Linked DNA regions of Homo sapiens: region 1 is linked to region 2. The links come from fine-mapping of genetic effects on gene expression. Tissue or cell type: whole blood. Region 2 holds a variant in brackets; the other region holds the start of a gene. All regions are shown on one strand. Distances are between the middles of the regions.

Region 1 (8,101 bases), 330 kb before region 2:
GAATTTCCAGGAATGCAGTGTTTTGGAAGATGGAAGAACTCATAACTAGTTGCTTTCAAGAGAAACTCTAGATAAAGTATTGCATTATTCTGCCCATCTGCTTCTGGTGCATTCCATTTTAGCCACAGGCAAAGTAGAAAACTAGGTAGGGTTTGAGCCTTTCTGTTTATCATATTTTAAAAGTTAATCCAAAGGCAATTCTTAAAAGATGAACTAAAAATGAAGTGTACCAAAACTCCAACCCACGCTTTACAAACGCCAAAATGAGAAATGTTCTACGAGGGAGACGTGATGTAATAACACATGAGCTGGGTCTGGCCTCAGACGGCCTAAGGTCCATTACAAGCTGTAGAGCTTTGGCTTGAAGAAACAAAGACAGCCATCTCTAAACCTCGGTTTCTCTAAAATGGTACTGTACCTCGCACAGTTGTCGAGAATTCAAATCCCATACCCTATGTATATCAGCCTGTCCATAATTAGTCACCCTGAGAAACTTTGCTTTCCTGGTCTAGACAGAATGAAAGAAACTGAGTCTGGACCCTGCCCTGTATATGAATTAGAATTTGTGTGCTTTAAGCTGCCCTCCCAGGGCACACCATGGTAAAGAGCAGGGAGCCTAGCTTGACTGTGTAGGTTCGGCTGGATTATTTTAAGCGTATCATTCACTCCCTCAGTGAAGTGAGGGAGTTAGACTAAAACACCTCTTGATATCTCTTCTAGCTTTAAAATTCTACGCAATCCACGGGGGAAGAAATTCAAGAAACCTTGCATACATCAAAACACCAAAAACCCCACTTTCCTTAAAAATGGTTTACAACGAACAGATCACCATCCCTGACATTTCAGGTTTTGCAGTTCACAGTTCACAGTACGGAGGAATGGGCTAAGTCACACTACAGCAGGCTCCCCTCCACGTCTAACAGAGGGGGCGGGGGGTTTTCTTGGAAGACTCGGCCAGTGTCAGGCAGCAAGGGGTAAGGGCTGTCTCGGTGGAGAAAGAAACCCAGGCTTCCGGGAACATAAACTGGGGGATGTAGGGGCAAAGCACCTGCTAAATCTCGTTAGGGTTGGGACTTCAAAGAGGGTTGGGCCTGCTCTGAGAAACAGTGTGGGAATCCCAGCCCCGACCTAAAGGCGACACGTTCACTGCCAAGGACTCAGAGGGAAAGCAGGGAGCGGGGAATGGACGCGGGAGGTGGATGCGAGAAAAAGGCCGAGTAGGGCCCCAGCCCCGGTCACTCACCACGAGCGGGATGGAGCAGATGAGCACCACCAGGGAGGTGGCAATGAGTAAGATGACCATCTGGATCTCGGCGCCCGCGATGCGGCGGAAGCTCCGGCGGCGCCGAAAGTCGCTGAGGCGCGGCAAGGCTGGGGAGGCAGCGGGGTGGCCCCGGGAGGCAACCGAGGCGGCCGCGGCCGCGTGGTGCTGCTCGGTGCCCAGCGAGGTGCGGCGCATGAACTGGCGGTGCATGCGGAGCAGCGCGCCGCACACAAGCACGTTGCAGAGGACGGTGGCGAGAATGAGGAAGGAGCTGAAGCCCGCGTACATGTAGGAGTAGGCGGCGTGCGCCGTCACGTTGGTGGTCCAGTCGATGAAGCACCAGGTGTCTGGGTACTGCAGCCGCGAGCTACCGAGACCCATGTTGGGCAGCGCGCAAAAGAGCACGTTGGACGCATAGACTGCAAAGAGCGTGAGGCCCGCCAATCGCTTGTCCACGTAGTGGCTGTAGAAATAGGCATGGTTGATGGCCAGGTAGCGCTCGACACTCATGGCGCAGATGATGCTGAGGCCGGACAGGCTGAAGAAGAGCAGAATGAAGGTGCTGTACTCGCACAGCGGCTGGCCCCCGGGCCATTGGCCCTTCATGTACGTGGCGATGGTCACCGGGCTCACCAACAAAGTGCCCAACAGGTCGGTGACAGCCAGCCCACATACCAGCGTGTAGAAGGTCGTCTCCTTCTGCTCCTTGCGCGACTTGCACAGCACCACGATGGCCACCAGGTTGCCCACCACCCCGAAGATGAACATCACCGCCGGGATGGTCACTGGGCTGTTCAGCCGGTCGGGGCTCAAGGAGGCGGACGAATTGACCCCGGGAGTGGACATGATAGTGGCTGGCGGTGCGCAGCCTTGGAGTGCAAGGCTGGGTCTGGGGATGGTAGAAGAGAGACAAAGCTGCCGTGAGCGGAAATTACCACTTGTAAGGTGTTAGACCCGCGCCCGAGAAACGATACACTGATAAGACAAGGGGAGCAACTCGATCCTACTTTCTGGATTGTAGCCACTTACCAACTGCGGCCACCAAAATCTCCAGGCTCGCGATACGTCCTGCCAACAGCACACTCTTGCTGACATTAATATTTATAAACTGATTTTCCCATTCCTCTTCCTCCCCACAATCCAACTCACTCCATTGCCAAGATGAATAAGACCCATCTCAAGGGAAAAGTAGCTCGCTAGTGCTATTCTCGATAGATTCTGAATCAATAAAATGCTCACTGAAAACAAGTTACAAAAGCAATTTGGAGAGCGCGCTCTTCCCTTCTTGGCTCTCTTCGGCGAGGGCCGCATCCCTGCGTTCTCTACCCGTTGACCCCAACGTCAGCCCAACGCCATCTCACCTGTAGCGGCAGCAGCGGTGGCAGCCTCACGAGCCCCCAGGGTCAGCCCTCAGATGTCCTGGACCCGCCTCCAACCTGCTTTCACCTTGTCCTGCTCAGTCTGGAAACTGCCAAATCTTCGGCTTCTCAAAGCCGGTCTCAGTGGCTGTCGATTTTTGGACACCGAGGTCAGAGTTGCCAGCTTTCAAAAACTTGGGAAACAAGAGGTGCAGCGGGATGGGTCAGTGAAGAATGGTGCTGGATTTCTTACTCGCTATTTTTTTTCCTTCAAAGACGAGTCCCAGCTTTGCAGTGCCCGCCGGTCTCGTCTGCGGGAGGACAGCGTTCAGGTGTGAGGCTGTGCGCGCAGGTGGCGCGGAGCCTTGGTCCCCAGCTCTGGCTGCCCTCCGCCCCAGCCACGGGCAGCACGGGCGGCTACTGGAGTTTGCGGCTGCCGCTGAGGCCGCTCCTGGCTACCTGGGGGCGGCTCGGGGTCCACTCTGCCAGAGGCTCTGGCCTGGGGCTGTTCATCTTCCTCTCGGGCTGCCGGGCTTGGAGCTCCGCTCTCGCCTTTCCACCCTCTGTACAAACTTTTCTCCTCCTCCAAGTTTCCCTGGCGGAGGCGGAGGCAAACCGCGCGCTGCCCGGGCGCCCATTGGCCGGATTGGAAGGGGGCGGAGCGCGTCCTCCCTGGGCGCCGCAGGGAAGACTGGCGGGGGGCGGTGTCTGGGCTGGGGCGGGGCTGGGCGCGCGGGGTGGGGCGGCTCCCGTGGTTTTCACGCCCTCGGAGGTGCGGAGTGGGAACTCGGAGGGGACCCTGGGAAGCCCCGGTGCTTTCCCCGGCGACCGCTTAGCCGCTCCTGAACTCGGCTTCCAGTGGGGCCACCACTGAAACCGGCGACCGTTTCCGCCTCGCTGCCTGCCGCTCGGAGTGTACTATTTCTTGAACCTCCTGTCCGCGGGCCGCAACATCTAGATCGTGGAAGAGAGGGCAGTTGTTTTAGGATTCTACCTAGGGTTGGCCGAGAAAGGAGAAGAAATACGGTGTCTGCGCTAGCGCGTGCGCCCCGGGGTTAGACTTGGGTGCGCCCAGCGGACGTGGTAGGTGGGTGGGTGGGTGGGTACCAGATTGGGCGGGGAAATAACGAAGAATCCATCCTCTCACCATAAAAGGAGTTGGAGTCAGTTGGCAGTGCCCAGACTGCGGGCTGCGCTTGGTCGGGCACCCCAGGCAAAAAAGAAAAAAAAAAAAGAGAAAGAAAGAGGAGGAGACAGTGATTGCAGCCTCTCCCGGCGCAGGTGGCAGAGCCTTGCGGCTTTGGAGAGAGGTGGAGCCTTGGTGAGGTTGGGAGGACTGCCTAACTGCGATCTTTTTCTCCATTCTTCCTCCTGGGAACTTCTCCGCCCTGAAAGGGTAGCGTGAGCTTCATGCCTTCGGCCGGCCGTGTTATACTCGTTAGACCCAATTCACCATGAATCCTTTGAAAGACTAGTGGAGAGTGAGAAGGGGGTTTCAAAGTCACTGGAGTAAAGGAATTCTCCAAGCACCACCTCATGATTAATTCTTGGAAAAGCCTGTTTGCGCGGCCCTTAGAATCATTTTGACTTCTTGTCTAATGGTGAAGTTTTTCTCTGTAATCCTTCTACTCTGTTTTCTAAAACCAGAACTAAAAACCTAAAAAATTGTAAAACTTCATGGTGTAATTAAAACCCCTTCACCATTTTTTTTAAGTAAGATTGTGTGGCCTTATTGCACAATTTAAATTCCTGGAAAAACCTCTTCCCATCTGCAGTGTACAAGCATTCTAACATATTATGTCTCCTCACAGGGTAAGTAAATAACTGGATTCTTTTATGTGATAAGCAGGTACCCATTTCTTAAATGTTATTTCGTGAACGAACAAACCTCCTAACTGGTTCTTCAGTTAGTCTCAGCAACACATGGGTAATAAGAGAAACTAAAAGGGCTTTCCGATTTCAAGTAATTACAGGTCATAAAATATCCAGAATCATATTTACTTGCAAAAGGCACTATATGGATATACTAATAAAGAATTATTCTGTTTATACTATTTACTTAATAATATGAGAAAGAAAAATACACATTTGTTAGCCAATATTAAGATTGATGGTGATTGGTCATTTTCTTAAAAATCTTCTTTTAATCAGTACTCTAATCACTTCTGTTGTCGATGCTTCCTTTGAACAGTAACCTCTAGGATTGTGTCAGCACAGAAAACAAATCAACATTAGAAAAAAGGAAACTGCACACTCTGCGCCATTCCTCACTAACCACATTGCTTTGCTATCACTCATGTCAGTTGCTTGTCAGTAAATATATGGAGGGGAGGTTGGGAAGTCCCTTATATTCACTTTCTGCTAATACAAATTTTTTTTTTCAATTTTCTTTCCATATGAAGCTTGTAAAAGAGAAAACAATTGGTTGCTATTTATTAATTTAAGAATGATGAAGAATATATTAAATATAAAAACTGAGACACACTGCTGAGATAATTAGTAACTGTTACAGGTATTAGCATGTCATTGACAAACCAGACTTGTTATCAATTGAGCTATTTTTCTTACTAGTCCTTTGAATTTTCTTTCTACAGTAGCTTTAGGAAGAAGGAAAATAAATAACCTAATGCTCAATACTAAAAAATTGTAATGAGGTTTATCTGTAGTCTCTTTTGTTGTACGATTCTTAAAACTTAAATTTAGCTTTCAAAAGTAGAAGTTGAAAGTTTAGGTAGCAAATTATTTTATTTTCTTAGTTTGAAAAACTGGGACAGTGGAGCTCAGTTTCTCTTACACTCTGCCAGGAATTTGCATTGCAAAAGGAAAGGAAAAATTGCCATAATTATGTGGGCAATTCTTGTCATTTTTTTTCAATGAAAAGATTTTTATTCTAAGCACTTTAAAAATTCTCCCTCGCAGTTTCTGCCACAATCCCTACTTCTCTATGCTGGAAGACCCCAGTTCAGTTATTTAAAACTGTCATTAAATAACTCTCTGAAGGTTTGAACTACTCCAAGAACTGTTTGATCAGTTTGATTGCTCTGTTATAGCTAATTATTTGACGAGTTTTTTGAGTAAACATATTAAGGTGGGAACCCATTTATAAACAAAGGCCGCTTGGGAGCTAGTAACCACTTTTAGTTTTCCTTGGATCAAAGGAAATATGGGACAGACAGGACCTGGGCTCAGCCAGCAGGAGTGGGGTGAGAAAGGGGATCATTTCCAGGAGGAAGGCAGCAGGATGAGTCAGATCTGGCCTGGACCCCTTCCTGAGCCGCAGCTGGCAGGATCTTAGAGCATTCCTGAAGCACTAATATTCATGTAGCAAAGCCTGTGCAAATTGTGTTTGCTTTTCTCTTTCATGACAGGCCATGCAGAGACTCAAAACAGTGTGAAAGGCATCTATCAGGTACAAATAGCAAAGTACCCTTGGACACATTTGCCCTCCACAGGCTCTTCCAGTTGGTTTAGTGGATTACAAACATGGCATTCACCTGACCCTAAGATGACTGCCTTCCCTTTTTAGTGGTACATTTCAAATGTGTGCCCTCTTAATTATTTTCATTTTCTAAGCATGAAGTTTATGCTGAGCCCAATGCCTGGAGCTGACACATGTCAGTGCTGTGATTAACTCCCCAACATCTTCATGTGGTGATAAATTACTGCTGTGGAGGCTGGCCCCTACTGAGTGATTGCTTCAGGCTGCTCTGACAGCCTGCTCTGACAATTACACTCCTCAAAGTAATAGCTTTCTGCTCTTTTATTCTGCTCGCTCCCTTTTTTTCCCTCCAGTTTCACCACACGCCCATGTGGATTGGACCAATGGGCAAAGAAAGGAGATTATTTACCTGCAGTGGCCTTTTTTTTTTTTTTTTTTGAGACAGATTCTCGCTCTGTCGCCCAGGCTGGAGTGCAGTGGTGCAACTTGGCTCACTGCAACCTCCGCCTCCTGGATTCAAGCAATTCTCCTGTCTCAGCCTCCCTAGTAGCTGAGATTACAGGCATGTGCCACCTTGCCTGGCTAATTTTGTATTTTTAGTAGAGATGGGGTTTCACCATATTGGCCAGGCTGGTCTCGAACTCCTGACCTTGTGATCCACCCCCTTCGGCTTCCCAAAGTGCTGGGATTACAGGCGTGAGTCACCGCTCCCAGAGTGGCCCATTTTTGAAGATACAAGTGGAGAAATAAAGCCTTACTAGTTAAAGAGTCTCCCCTACAGGAGGAAGGACCTTCTGATTATATTTCGGTTTCTTCTCATACCCAAATTGCTGTATGTTTTAGCAATGTGGAGGATGCACAGAAACTCCCTGGCTTAATCAATAGCAGCAGCATCACCTGTAGCTCATGTTAGTTTATCACTTTCCATAGCAGTTTCACACTTGGCGTTCACATGCGCTTTTATTAGCAACCCTCTGAGGAGGTTAGGTAGGTGTGACAGAGTCTGCTGTGTTGCACCAAATCTTGTTTCCATTTCCTCTGGAACACATAGCTGCGTATTATTTCCCAAACTGACTTCTTGTGGTTAGGTGCAGCTCATGTGACTGAATTCTGGCCAATGGAATAGAGGTAGAATTGATATATGCCACTTCCAGGCTGGGTCCCTATAAAACCCAGTCCTTTGTGCTATTGTTCGTCCTCTGCCAACATAATACAGGTCCCGGGTATATGGCAGAGCCACTAGATAGAAGGTGACTTGGCCTCTGAGTGCCTGTATGGACCTCATTCCAATCCCAGCAACCCTCACTGGACAATGAAGTGAATGAGAAATAATGCACTGAGATTTGAGGGGTCCCTTGTTTCAGCAGTTAGCCTATGCTGACTAATTTAGTATGGTTGATGTAATCTTCCTTCAGTGAGTGAGAATGTGGGCACAGAGATTCTATGTGGCTTGCTGAGAGTCACAAGAATTAGTAAGAATAGCTGAAATTTATCCAATGCTCAGCCTATGTGAGACATCATGCTAACTGCAACATGCATACGCTGTCAAATTCTCACAGCAAACCTATGAGGAAGGTACTAGGCAGTCAGATGCCCATTTCACAGATGAGCAAATCAAAGTTTGGTTAACGAATGCTGGGAGTGTTTTTTTTTTTCTTTTTTTTTGTGGCAGGGTCCCAATCTGTCCCCCAGACTGGAGTGCAGTGGGGCGATCTTGGCTCACTGCAACCTCCACCTCCTGGGGTCCAGTGAACCTCAGCTTCCCAAGTAAGCCGGGACTACAGGCAGGTGCCACTATGCCTGGCTAATTTTTGTATTTTTTTGTGGAGATGGAGTTACCCCATGTTGCTCAGGCTGGTCTCGAACTCCTGGGCTCAGGCGATCCACAAGCCTCCACCTCACAAAGCGATGGGATTACAGGGGTTAGCCACCACACCCAGCCCAGGTGTTGTCAGTTTTGAAAGGCTGCCCAGCAGCTGAACTCCTTTTCTATTAGTAAGAATCCTCCATTGCATAATATTATTTGGAGGCAAGACCTAG
Region 2 (8,112 bases):
AATACGTTTATTAGGAGTGGTGAAAGTGGGCATCCTTGTCTTGTTCCAGTCTTAGAGAAAATGCTTTCAACTTTTCCCCATTCAGTAGGATGTAAGCTGTGGGCTTATCATATATGGCTTTTATTATAATGATTTTTATTAAAATTTTTTATGAGTCTATTGAGATGATCATATGGTTTTGTCCTTCATTTTGTTGATGTGATGTATTACATTTATTGAAAATTCTACCTTATTATAGTGTATTATCTTATTTATGTGCTGTTGGATTCAGTTTGCTAGTATTTTGTTGAGGATTTTTGTGTTTGTGTTCTTCAGGGATATTGACCTGCATGTTTTTGTTTTGGCATGTCCTAGTTTGGTTTTAGTATCACGGTAATACTGGGCAAGTAAATTGAGTTGGGAGGAATTATCTCTTTGCTGTTTTGGAATAGTTTCAGGAGGATTGACATTAGTTCTTCTTTGTACATTTGGTAAAATTTGGTTATGAATCCATCGGTCCTGGACTTTTCTTTGCTGGGAGACATTTTTTATTACTGATTCAATTTCACTTTTCGTTATTGGTATGCTCTGGTTTTCTCTTTCTTCTTGATTCATCTTAGTAGGTTGTATGTTTCCAGGAATTTATTTCCTCTAGGTTTTCCAGTCTGTCAGTGTGTAGTTGTTCATAGTAGTCTTTGATGATCTTTCGTATTTCTGTGGTATCAGTTGTAATGTCTCTTTTTTTTCATTTCTGATTTTGTTTGTTTGGGTCTTCTCTCTTCTTTTCTTGATTAATCTAACTACTGGTTTATTAATTTTGTTTCTTTTCAAAGAACCAACTGTTAATTTCATTGATTCTTCGTATTTTTATTTTTAATTTCTATTTAATTTAGCTCAGTTCTGGTCTTTATTATTTCTTTTCTTCTGCTAATTTTGCATTTGGTTTGTTCTTGCTTTTTAGTCACTTGAAATGCACTCTTAGATCGTTAGTTTCTCATCTTTCTACTTTTTTTGAAATTGGTGTTTATTGCTGTAAACTTCCCTTTTAGCACTGCTTTTGCTGTGTCCCACAGGTTTTGGTATACTGTGTTTCCATTTTTATTTGTTTCAAGAAATTTTTTGATTTCCATCTTGAAATATTTTTGTTGACCCAGTGGTCATTCAGAAACATGTTGTTTAATTTCCTGTATTTGTATAGTTTCAAGCTTCCCTTTGTATTGATTTCTGGTTTTATTACATTGTAGTGTGAGAGGATACTTCATGATTTTGACTTTTAAAAGTAATTATGTCTTGTTTTGTGGCCTAACATATGGTCCATCCTGGAGAAAGTGTTGACGAAAAGAATGTATATTTTGAAGCTGTTGGATAGAATGCTCTGTAAATGTCTGTTAGGTCCATTTGGTCTAAAGCCCTGTTTAAATCCATGGGATTTAAAACCCCTGTCTGCCAGGGTTTTCTCTGTACGTTATTAAATAGCTTTCTCTTGGTGTTTTTAGGATTTTCTCTTTAACTTTGACTTTAGACATTCTGATTTTAATGTGCCCTGGGGAAGATTTTTTGTATTTATCTATCTGGGGATTGAGCCTCCTGAATATAAATGTCTAAACCTCTTGCTAGACTTGGGATGTTTTCATCCATTATTTTGTTAAATATGTTTTCTGATCCTTTCCTTGTTTCTTCATTCCCAGGGAGGCAATAATTTGTATATTCAGTCACTTTATGTTGTCTCAAATGTCACAATGGCTTTGCTTATTCTTGTTTTTCCTTTTTTCTTCTTTTTTCAGTTTGGATTATTTTAAAAGATGTCTTCAAGTTATGAGGCTCTGTCTTCTGTGTAACCTAGTCTATTGTTGAAGCTTTCAAATGTATTTTGGATTTCCTTCAATAAATTCTTCAGTTCAGGAATTTCTATTTGATTCTTTTAAAAATATCCATCTTTTCAGTATAATTCTCACTCATAACCTGAACTATATTTCTGATTTATATTTCTGATTTTTTGTACTGTTTTTCAGAATTCCCTTGGATCTCACTGAGTTTCTTTAAAATCAATGTTTTTAATTCTTTATCTGGGGTTTTGAAAATTTCATTTTGATTAAGATCTATTCCTGGAGAATTATTGTGTTCCTTTGCAAGTGTTATATTTCCTTGCTTTTTCATTCTTCATTTGTTCTTACATACATTGACATTTACGCATTTGTTGTTAACAGTCGGTTCTTACTATTTTTGAATATACTTTCATTGAGGGAGGATCTTTTTCCAAAGATGTATCTATGGTGTTGGTTGGATAAGTTACTCTGGCTCTGATTCTGGACATGTTCGGTAGTGTAGTCTCTCTGTATGATTTCTTTGATATTAGTGGTGTCTTTGATTCACTTGGTGGGTTAGGGTGTGGCTATTACGGAGGCTATGGTAAAGTTGTTCTGGAGACTAGGATACCAGGTGGGCTGGTCCTCAGGCCCCAGTAGTGGCAGCCATAGGCTGAGTGTGCCTACCTTTGTGCCCCAGTGGCACCTGTGTTGGCAGTTACTGGTGGGTCTATTCTTGGGTCTCTAGGTGGCATGCTCAAATGCTGATAATGACGCAGTGGACTGGGCAGGCTGGTAAGTACTCACGTCCCTGACAGCTGGTGTGGATTGGGTGATAATAGTGGCAATGGTGGGAAAATTCTCTGGGTCTCAAGTGGTATGTGTTGCTGTTGGCTATGGCTGTGAGGGGTTGGGTGAGCGAGTCTACAGGCCCACAAGTGGAACTTGCAGGTGGGTGGCAGCTGAGGTGGTAGCAGCTGGGAGGTTAGGTCTGACCTTAGGCCCCCAGGAGGAGTGCTCAGGTACCCAAGATGGTGGATTAGTGATCCCCAGAACCTCAGGCTATGTGCACTGTCCTGAGGGGGCCAAAGCTGGGCTGCATGAGCTTGTGCTTAGGTGTGCCCCCAACCCCCCACCATGGTGAAAGTGGGCACCAGATGTGGAGGGCCAGGGTGGGGTGATCTTCAGGTCCCAGGAGCAGTGCTTGGAATAAAGGGCAATAGCAGAAAAGCTGAGGCACTGCCATGGCAGAGATTGGGGCCTCCCTCAGTGGTCTCAGCTGATATGTGGGCGACGTGGATCTCATTCACACCCCAGTCCCTTCAGGGCTTGTCTCTTGCTCTGGCTACAGGAGACTACGCCCAGTTTATGACCAAGTCCCAGTGGCAATTCACACTATGCTCGCATCCCCATCTTAGATCTCAGCAGCTAAGCACTTGCTTCCCATGACTGGAAACTGCTGCCTACTCCTTGCTTGCTTTCTAGCCCTGGCGGTGGCAGTGCTCCAGGCTTGCTCTGCTGTCCCAGCAATGACAGCTTGGGTTTCAGTAATGCCTCATTCCCAGTGCCCCTGGGTCCCAGAACAGTGTGCAGTACCAGAGCTAGTTTTGAAAATGACAACTTGCTGTAGCTGCATAGGTCTTAGAAAGGGTGTGAGATACCGTATGAGCTCCCTCCCTGGAGGAGTTCCATCCCACAGTCTCCCAGCAGCTTCCTACGTTATTTCAGGGGTTGAGAGAAATGAGGGCATCTCCGTAGGCCAGAATTGCGTGATTGCATGGTGGGGATGTGGGCTGCTGGAAGTCTTTTACTCATCCCTTCCCTGTGTTGAGAAGTCACTCCAGGCTTGCAGCCAATCCCGGCCAGGGAGGTTGCCTCTTCTCCCATCCGCCCCACCGACTCCCACTTTTGGTGCCTCCTGTCACTTCCCTGTTGAATTCAGTGTTCTCTCTTGGAAAATAAACTCAAAGTGTAACTATCTATGCACTACACTACTCTAGTTCTTCTAAGTTTAGCAGCAGGCTTAAAATGCTTCTAATCAGCCATCTTCAACCCCCGCCCTCCTTGTCTCTAGTTTGCTCCTTCCTTCCTTTTCTTTCCTTCCTTCCTTCCTT[CCTTT/T]CCTTTCCTTTCTTTCTTTCTTTGCTTTCTTTCCTTTTTTTTCTTTCTGCCTCAGAGCCTATGCACATGCTTTTTTCTCATCTGAAATGTCCTTTGTTGCTTTTTTCCTGTCTCCTTATTCGCAGCTTGACCTTGCCTAGGTTTGTTTGTCCTTCATATTTCAGAATATGTGCTATTTTTTCCCCCAGAGGAATCTTGCAAAACCACCTCAGTTACATACTATCAAAAATTTGTAGTTCTTCTTCATAGCGTGTATTTAAATAAGCAATTCTGTAATTGGTTCTTCAATGTCTGGATTCACCTCTGTGAAGATAGAAACGATCTTCTTTCGGTTTAGCAATATGTTCCTAGTGCCTAACAGAGTGTTTTAACCCATAGTCAGCACTCAACAAATAATGATTGAATGAATGAATGAATTAGTAAATAATTAAACACGAATGTGAGGTACAAAGATGAAACGTCAATTTTCCCTGATACTTCTATGATTGAATTTAGAAAATTGGAGGCACTGCACTAGTTTTAAAAACTCTACTCATAGTAAACTGCTGTCTACTTCTTGTTGTGAAAATCTATTTTAACATGGTTTGGGTTTTTAGATTTAGGTGTGATACACAATATCTCCTCCTTTTTTGTGTGTGTCAGCCTCTAGAAGGGAACTCTATCCTGGATGAGGAAGAATAAACTTGGCTCGTGATATAAAAAATTTGGTACAGTGAACTATGAGATAGTTGCAGGGGCTTGCCCACAAATATCTGCAAATTCCATGTGTTCATATATTGCAATAAAACTACCTCCCCTCTGGGAGCTGGCTAAGAAAAAATTTAGTATTTAATGAAAAGTTGGCTCAATAAGTAATACTTTCCAAATCAGAAAATAAAACTTTAAGAGGAAGAAATGTGGATAACCATTCCATGTGACTGTAGACATTAGGACTTGGCTTGAAGGCAACTTTTATTACATAAGCCTGTTTGGGAGTACAATTAGTGAAAAGGGATATAATATGAAATTTTAATAATTTTCTGTATTAACATTTCTAGTTATTAGTATAATGATCAACACTTATCCATCTACTAAACTGTTTAGGCAAGATATAAACATATTGTTTTTCTTTTTTTTCAATGAAAGTAGAGGGAGGGACATAGATAAAAAGAAAGCAGATGTTTTAATTTTTGTAAAAAAAAAACCAGCAATAATCTGGGGTTGGTTAGCTTCATGACTATCCATCTTAAGGACATGGTTTGCCAGTAAAGTGTAAATGCTCTTGGAGCTGTTTGGAGAACTCCATGGAATATCATGTCATAACCTCATAATGCCTGGTTGCTATGTGCGTCTGTCTTAATCATAATCTAGGTGCTACTGGGTCAACCACACTATCAATACAGATGTGCAGTTGAGTATAGAAGTAATGCTTCCTCGGTAATTAATCTTTTAATTTTTCTGCATAATGTGGAAAACAGAATACTTTGATGTGATACCTCAGTAAATAAATGCCAATGTATGTTCTTTTATTTTTTCCATCATAAAAATATCACAACATTAAAGATTGCCTCCCAAATAATACCCATAGTCTCACTATCCTAATAAAACTAATTTCCTGTTTACATTTAAAAATTATGCTGCATATGTCTATACTTAGTTGAACATTATATAATGATTTCATCCTACTTCATCAAATCATTGTGTAATAATTTATTTCCCATTTATTTAGTGTACAGGTGTTTTTTTCTACTTTTTCCTGGTATAGATATAATGCCCAGCTTCTGTTGATTACTTTCTTAAATTAATTTCTTAGATTATGATTTGAATAAAGGAGTATAACATTAGTAATAAATGCAGGCAAGAAAAAGACAGCCTTTCTACCAGTTACCTTAAGGCAGTAGAATGAGTCCCTGAGATGAGAAATATCTATAGCAGCTTATCTGTACTTACGTTTTGCTGTTTGGCACATTGTACTTTCAAGTACAGTGATAGTTTTTGTTCATGTCCTATCTCTGGTTCTATATTATAAACTCTAGAGGGCAGGATCTTATCTTATTCATCTTCATATCTTACACAGTTCTTGACCTACTACCTTCCATATCGTACCCACTCAATAAATATTTGTGAAATAATTGAAGAGAGTTAGTAGTAATTACACTAATTTAGTGTTTAAAGTTAGATTTAAAAAATTTCCAATAGTATACTTTGATTTAATTGTACCTATCTATTTTTTCTAATGGCATCCATTAATATTTTTAAGGTCAATATTCAGTTTGGTGAATCATTTCTATATAAATGCCTCTAAATTACATATGTTTCATTCACTTAACCATGGTTAGCATTTAATTTTTATATTATCAGATTCTGTGTGACACTAAGAAAAGAAAAATATTTAGGGCACCACTAAAATAACCACTGGTGAATCAGGGGATGGGATTTTGGCATATTTCTTAGAAAAGAAATAATGCCCACATATTTCATATGAGCTAGTAGATATGTGCTATATCAGGGAATATTGTAGAGTTCATGAACTTGGCATGGCCACAGAAAATTATTTATCATATCACATAATGTAATATGAACAAATTTCTAGTGCAAATTCAGTTAACAAATAGAATCAGCTAGAAGACATACTGAATATCCATGATACAATTTAAAATAGAAACATAGATCGTTTGGAGAAAATTTCTAGCTGTTAAGTGTTATCTTCCTTGCATTTTACTAATAGAACCCTTTTTCCCATTAATAGTTACGTTCTATGTAACAAATTGTGTGTTCTTCTCTGACAGCCTGACCTCCTGAGATTCCTTCCCTGTTGTAAGAATTATGGCATCTCTAATATTAAAATTATTGAGAAATTAGAAAAACAAAACCTGTTAGCTGTAATGAAAAAAGATGACAGAAAAGGGGCATAACTTTTCACTTGAGGATGTAACTCTTTGTACATTATAGAAAAATACACATAAAAATTCAGGACATAATACTAATTCCCACCCTACCCCCCCCCTGCAATAGTAAGCTATTCTATGGAAAACAGAAAAGCAAAACAAGAGAAATGAAAAACATTTTACACAAATGGGATCATACGGTATGTGTTTTTTTGTGCCTGGCTTTTATCACTTAACAGAATATTTTCAAGTTTCACCCATATTGTAGCACATATCAGTACTTCATTTATATTTATTGCCAAACAATATTTCAAGGTATGGATATATTTATTATATGGAGATGTATATATATATTTTTTCATTGTATGGATATATATATATTAATTGTATGGATATATATATTTATTGTGTATTTTTTGTTTTTTTGTTTATCCATTTATAAGTTGATAGATAATTGGTTGCTCCCAATTTTGAGCTATTATGAATAGTGCTTCTATGAAAATTTATGTGCAGGTTTTTATATGCACTGTTTTTCCCTATTTTCTCTGGATAGATATTTTAGCACAATTTCCATTAGAAGTAGTGAGAGTGGACATCTTTATCTTTTTCTTCTTCTTGGCAGAAAATTATTTAGTTTTTCTACATTAAGTATGATATTAGCTGTGGATTTTTCATAAATTTTCTTTTTCAAGTTGAAGTTTTCCTTTATTTGAGGTGTTTGTCATGACAACTGGATTTTTTTAAATGCCTTTTCTTCATCTATCGAGATATTTTTCTCTTCATTCATTAATATAGTGTATTACATTAACTAATTTTAGAATGTTAAACTAAGCCTTATGCTTCTGGGATAAAATTTCTTCTTGGTCATGGTGTGTGGTTTATAATTTCTTAAATATGCTACTGGATTTGATTTGCTAGTATTTTGTTAAGGATTTTTGCATCTGTATTGATAAAGAATATTGATCTGTAGTTTTTTTAATGTCAATCTGATTTTGCTATCAGGATAATACTAGCCCTATAAAATAAATTAAGAAGTGTTTATATCTATGCCATTTTTAAAAAGAGTTTGAGAAGGATTGGTGTTAATTCCTCTTTAAATATTTAGTAGAATTCACTAAGAAGCCATATGGCCCTGGGCTTTTCTTTGTTGGAAGTTTTTTGATTACTGATTCAATCCCTTTAACTGTTATAGGTCTGCTCAGATTTTTTGTTTCTTATTGAGTCAGTTTTGGTAATTTGTGTTTTTGTAGTAATATTTCCATTGCATATTAGTTATCTAATTTGTTGGCATACATTTATTTATGACATTATCTTATACGTTCTTTTTACTTCTGTAAGATTGG

What was found. PIP is the estimated chance that this variant, and not a neighbour inherited with it, causes the effect.
Region 1: PTGER4 starts here. The variant in region 2 is fine-mapped to the expression of PTGER4 in whole blood (INTERVAL, PIP above 0.99).

What each region holds. Positions count from the first base shown.
Region 1 is chr5:40,675,003-40,683,103 of GRCh38, reverse strand. It overlaps PTGER4 (prostaglandin E receptor 4), which reads right to left and starts at 3,189. Exons shown (of 3, transcript NM_000958.3): 1 at 2,626-3,189; 2 at 1,244-2,153. The coding sequence starts at 2,110. RefSeq lists an enhancer at 1,644-2,171 and a silencer at 3,307-3,526.
Region 2 is chr5:40,343,707-40,351,818 of GRCh38, reverse strand. No RefSeq gene overlaps it. Among named protein-coding and RNA genes, the nearest start is that of LINC00604, 110 kb to the right of the region's middle. The variant CCTTT/T (reference allele first, on the strand shown) is at 3,899.